Linked DNA regions of Homo sapiens: region 2 is linked to region 1. The links come from fine-mapping of genetic effects on gene expression. Tissue or cell type: whole blood. Region 1 holds a variant in brackets; the other region holds the start of a gene. All regions are shown on one strand. Distances are from middle to middle.

Region 1 (2,909 bases):
ACTGAGATAATTTAGGTCAGTGTTTTCAAACTTGTGAGATGATAAGTATCATCCAAGTGCTCATTAAAAATTTATTTCCTGATGACTTGAGCCCAGGAGTTTGAGATCAGCCTGGGAAGCATGGCAAAACCCTGTCTCTACAAAAATTACCAAAAATTAGCTGGGCATGGTGGCATGTGCCTGCAGTCCCAGCTACCCGGGAGACTGAGGTGGAAGGACCACCTGAGCCCAGGAGGTTGAGGTTGTAGTGAGCTGAGATCATACCACTGCACTCCAGCCTTTCCTCACTCTTGGAGATTCTGTTTCAATCAGTGAGGTAGGCTCCAGAAATACGCATGTTCATCAAGTTCCTTGAGTGATGCTGATGCTAGTCTGAGGAATAATCTGATATTCTTCAGTCTTCAATGTCAGGGCCTTAAAGACAAAGGGAGCATGGCTGGTTGGTGAGAACTGACCAACACTGGAGCATGGTAATCTCGCTTTTAGTTCCTGTGAACTCTATTTTTAGTCGTTTGTAGGTCAACAGACCTCTAAGTATTATTATTATTATTATTTACAAATGAGTGTATCCATTCATTAAGGCTTTCTTCTTTAGTTGCAAACAAGTTTTGGAAATAAAATAGATGGCTGGTCTTGAATACTGAAAGACAAATACTGGGGAGAGAGAGAGGGAGGGAAAGAGAGAGAGAGAGATCTCAAATCACAATAAGTAGAGAAAACCTGGATTGTACTAAAAAGATCTGACTTAAGATAGAGCCTTTCATACCGCCCTAAGTCAGAAACTATGCTTGGTTTCCTGTGGACTCTGTGGCTTATGGATCTGCTGAGTCTAGAGGTGAACTCCAAATTGGGCAGGATCTTGAGGCAGTTATTATTTCATTGATGTAAAATATTGCATTAATCCTGTTTATACTTTTTATCTGATTTCCTTCTAGACTTTTAAAGCCCAATTCAGCAATTATTTTAAGGAGAGGTCAAACAAGCAGGCTGAAGCTACAAAAGATTATTGCTGTTTTGGTTAAAGCAGCTAGGAGCTGTTATCAGCTAAGTGGTAGGTTTGACTCTAAGTGAAGTGAAAAGTCAGAAAACATTTATTATCTGGGCAACTCTCTTTAAGAAAAAATCAGCTATCTTCTTGTTGTGTGGGGATCAAGAACTTGCTTACCCTGCCTGGTCTGACTGAAAAAAAGATCTCCAAATGGGTCTTCTAGAATAGAGAGTTCTGATAAATGTTGGTTCAGCCATTGCTCAACACATTTCCCTGTGCCTGACTTTTTGCTAGGCAATAGTATGTTAACAATGAAAGTCTTGGTTACCCGCTAGGAGATTAAGTGTTGCAGTGTCTCCCAGTGTCTCAGAGGCTCCTATTGTTTATGGCTCTACCCCAAATCTCTGCTAAGTGTGTGTATTAGTCTGTTTTCACACTACTATAAAGAACTACCTGAGAATGGGTAATTTATAAAGAAAAGAGGTTTAATTGACTCAGTTCCACATAGCTGGCGAG[G/T]CCTCAGGAAACTTACAATCATGGTGGAAGGGGAAACAGGCACATCTTACATGGTGGTAGGTGGCAGGTAGAGAGGGAGGGGGAGAGTGAAACCACCACTTATAAAACCATCAGATCTCATGAGAACTCACTCACTATCACAAGAAACAAGAACAGCATGGAGGAAACCGCCCCCATGATCCAATCACATCCCACCAGGTCCCTCCCCTGACACGTGGGGATTACAATTCAGATTACAATTCGAGATAAATTCAGGTGGGGACACAGCCAAACCATATCAGTGAGCACAGCTGTGTTCTGTACCAAAACCCCACCTTTCTTGTGTAAAGCTGATTAGACCTGAGTCAAGGCAGCCATTCTTAGGCTGGCCAGGAAACAAGACACAAGTGGTGCAGCACCACGAGATCAGAGAGACCAAGCAAACTCATCCTTCAGGAACTTGGAATCGGGAAGCTGAGACGTCGTACCTGTTAGCACCAGAGGCAAAAGATAAAAGGTGACCTCGAGAGCTGGGTAATGTAATGGAGGCTGGGATAGCCTGTGGATTAAGCAGAAGTAGGGAAATCCGGCAGAGAGAGAGAGAGGGAGAGAGAGGGAAGGATGGAGTGATGAGCAGGCAGGCACAATGATGCTGTGACCTTAGGTCTCTGAGGGGGGAGATGGAAAGAAGGGCCTTCATTTCTGATGGCTTTTATGTTCCTGCTCCTATGAAGCTCATTTTCTCATGTGTCTGTGAGGCCCTCTGCATCCTTACAATAAATCTCTCTCTGCTTGGTCTGGCTTGCAGGCGTCTCTACTCTTTGCAGAGAAAGTAGAATACCAAGCAGAAAACAGGCAGTTACTAAGTTGTGTTAAGTGCTGTGATGGGGAAGGTACCGGGGGCTACAGGAGGATAAGGGGGACATCTAGTCAGGATTGGGGCAGGCAGAGACGGATTCCTGGAGGAGATAATATCTAAGATGGCGAGTGAAGGACAGGGAAGAGTTAGCTGGCCTAAGGGAACTGGAAAATAATTAGGGAAGAGCATAGGCAAAGGTCTAGTGATGAGAGGAAGCAGGATGTTCTCAAGGAAACCTGAGAAGTTCAGAATGCTGGCAGAGACAATGAGAGTTTCAATTGATGAGACTGGAGAGAGAGAGAGAGAGACAATGAAGGGCCTTGTGAATCTTGTTAAGGACTTGGAAATTTATCTCAGGAGAGAGGGGGAAATATAGAAAGACATTAAAAGGAGGACTTTAATGTGATTTGCTTTTAAGAAGGATCACCTTGGCTGCAGTAAAGAGAGACTAGGTTGGAAGCAGGAAGACCAGTTGGGAGGACATTGCAGCTAGCTGGGTGAGAAGTGATGGAGTTCTGAATTAGAGAGTGGCATTGTGGGTGGAGAGAAGTGGATAGGCTCCGGCTG
Region 2 (2,909 bases), 570 kb before region 1:
TTAAACTAGTTAACTCTCTTTCTGAGTATCAAAAAACCAATCTGATCATTGGCTTGTACTCTTCTTATGAGAATATGTTAAATATAATTATAATTAGGTTCAGGACTATAACTTCTGAGAAACGTCTATTTACATAGCAAATGAACAAATATTGTGCCTGTTACATGCCAATAGAACTTTAAGCTAGAAGTATTATGTTCATGTCCTTTTTGTTTTTTAATTCATGACCACCAGTAAATCCCTGGACATTCCCACCCACCACCTGGTGGTGGCATTTGCTAAAGGGAATAATTGCCACCTCCCTCAGAGGGTTGCAGTGAAAATTAAAAGAGATAATAGATGTGAAAGTGCTTTATAATCTTTCAAGTGCCAAACACACATAAGGGATTATTATAGTAGGAAATGGTGTCTTCCAAAGAGTAATCATTTAGACAATGTTATAAACGTAATAAATTATTGGTTTCCATATTCAAACCATGACAAGTTCTTGTAGCCACGATGAGACGGAAAACTAATAATTTAGTATTTTTAGTTGATGTGTTTTTTTGTTTTGTTTGTTTTGTTTTGTTTTTGGGGTTTTTGTTTTGTTTTGTTTTGCTTTTGAGACAGGGTCTTGCTCTGTCACCCAGGCTTGAATGTAGTGGCATGATCTCGGCTCACTGCGACCTCCGCCTCCCGGGTTCAAGCGATTCTCCTGCCTTAGCGTCCCGAGTAGCTGGGATTACAGGCCCGCGCCACCACTCCCGGCTAATTTTTTGTATTTTTAGTAGAAACGGGGTTTCACCATGTTGCCCAGGCTGCTCTCCAACTCCTGACCTCAAGTGATCCGCCTGCCTCGGCCTCCCAAAGTGCTGGGATTATAAACGTGAGCCACTGTGCCCGGCCGCTGATGTGGAAATATTAATTTCACATCCCATAGAGGAATATACAGTGTTTTTGATATTTTAAAGTCGTTTTAACAGTGAGCTGTCTAGAAATTCAACCATTGTCTGCAGATTTTCTTACGATTCTGAGCATCACCCAGTGCGCTAATGGAAGGCTGAGGCTACCCCTTCGCTCTTCTCATTTTTAAGAAACTTCCAGCTATCCTTCCCTCTCCTAGGAAAGCTAACGGAATGCAGGAGATAAAATGGTTTCAGATTACATCCAGCGTGATAAACTGTGTCCTTGTCTTAATCTCGTCCAATTCCCAAAACATTTCCAGCTTGCTGTGAGGAGTTACATTCAGTGGTACAGAATGAGCCAGGCAGGCGACGGCGACTTGTAGGTTCCCCATCCCTTTTCTGAGATGCCGCGGTCAGCTCTAGAGACCTCAGGGATAGCAACAGAGCTGGAGATGGGTTAGGGGAGGATGGTGAGGACTACAAAGGTCTCCCCACCTCCCGGGGGCCGCGGAGGCGGGGCTGGATGAAGGTCGACGTGCCTCCTCCGGGCGGGGCGCTGCCAGGCTCTCAGCCTCTCTGTGGAAGGGCAGCCTGCGCCTGGGTACCGAGGCTGCTGCGCGGCGGACAGCGGGCGCGATGTATCTCCGCAGGGCGGTCTCCAAGACTCTGGCGCTGCCGCTGAGGGCGCCCCCCAACCCCGCGCCGCTCGGAAAGGACGGTGAGTAAGGAGGTCTAGCCCGGAGAGGAGGACGGGCGCCTCGGGTGCAGATTTCGCCCGCGCCAGGGAACCGGCCGGCACCCAGTTGGCCAAACCCGACCCAGAGCAGCAGAAGCCTGGATTGGAGGTCGAGGAGACTGGGGGAGACTCCCGGGAAGACGTCCCGAAGCTCCTGCAGACTTTGGAAGTAGGGAACTTTTCCAGGGTGCCTCAGAGTCCAGATTATCTGGGTTCGCATCCTGATCTTGGACAAATGGCTTAACCTGTTTCCTCATCTATAAAATGAGGGCGATGATGGTTTTCCTTTTTAATGAGTTAATGTATGGTTAAAAGCACTTAAAAACGTGCCTGGCTGACAAAGTCGCAGCTTACCACTTTTATTGTTAGAGGCACCATTCGCTCTCCAATCTCCTGAGGAAGCAGAGGAACGGTGGGAAGGTGGACGCCGATCAGCGAGCGGGCCCGGCAAGCGCTGGGAGGCAGTGAGGCAGGGCCCGCTCAGTGGACGCTGGGCGAATGTTCGTGGGGTAAATAAACCTAACCCTTGGCAGGGTCTCAGCAGCCTGAACCCCGCGAGCGCCTGGCTCTGAGATCCACAACCCCCAAAAAGGAAGCGGCCTTCGGGACACTTTCCTTTGAGGTTGCACGTCGTCCTGCAACTGCTTGGCTCTGTAGTCCAAATATCGACACCTTTGGTTCTGAGGATACGCGAGAAAAAGCAGAATACTCAGCAATTAACTAAAGGGGGAGTTGCAGTGTGAACTGGAGGCTTATTAAATAAAAACGGACATATAGGAAAGCGCTTCGTATAGTGCTGGGAACATAGTAGGTGCTTAATAGGTGTGAGCAAGGAAGATTGTTTTTCTTCTGGGACCAGGCTTGCGCTCCAGGGCGGTTCTGCCCCAGCCGCTTTTCCCTAGTCCCCATCCGTCACCCCTCTCTCTTCCACTCACGACTGGGGGACGGCTCTTAGACAATATCGTGAAGGGTTCTTAATGCTCTCTTCACTTAGCCTCACTTTCTGAGCCTTCCGAGATAATTTTACCCCAGAGGGTGGATTCCAGCAGGAGAGAAAGATGTGCGCGGAGAATTCCATGGGCCGATTTTTTTTTCACGTTGATTAGGCCTCTGTTGGTGGTGGTGGGAGGGAAGGACGGAGGTCTAACTAACTCGCTTTATTTTTCTTGTAAAATGCTGGTGGAAGGAAGTTATCCCTCAAGTATCAGAAATAAGACATCTTCGTTTTCCTAGATCTTTATTGCCTTTATTTTTCTAGATCTTTATACCAAATGATATAGAGCTTTTAA

Evidence for each region. PIP is the estimated chance that this variant, and not a neighbour inherited with it, causes the effect.
Region 2: MGARP starts here. The variant in region 1 is the best candidate, but not a certain one, in a credible set for the expression of MGARP in whole blood (TOPMed, PIP 0.89).

The regions. Positions count from the first base shown.
Region 1 is chr4:138,709,386-138,712,294 of GRCh38, reverse strand. No RefSeq gene overlaps it. Among named protein-coding and RNA genes, the nearest start is that of NOCT, 300 kb to the left of the region's middle. The variant G/T (reference allele first, on the strand shown) is at 1,505.
Region 2 is chr4:139,278,770-139,281,678 of GRCh38, reverse strand. MGARP (mitochondria localized glutamic acid rich protein) reads left to right here and starts at 1,454. Exons shown (of 4, transcript NM_032623.4): 1 at 1,454-1,602. The coding sequence starts at 1,521. RefSeq lists an enhancer at 1,490-1,699.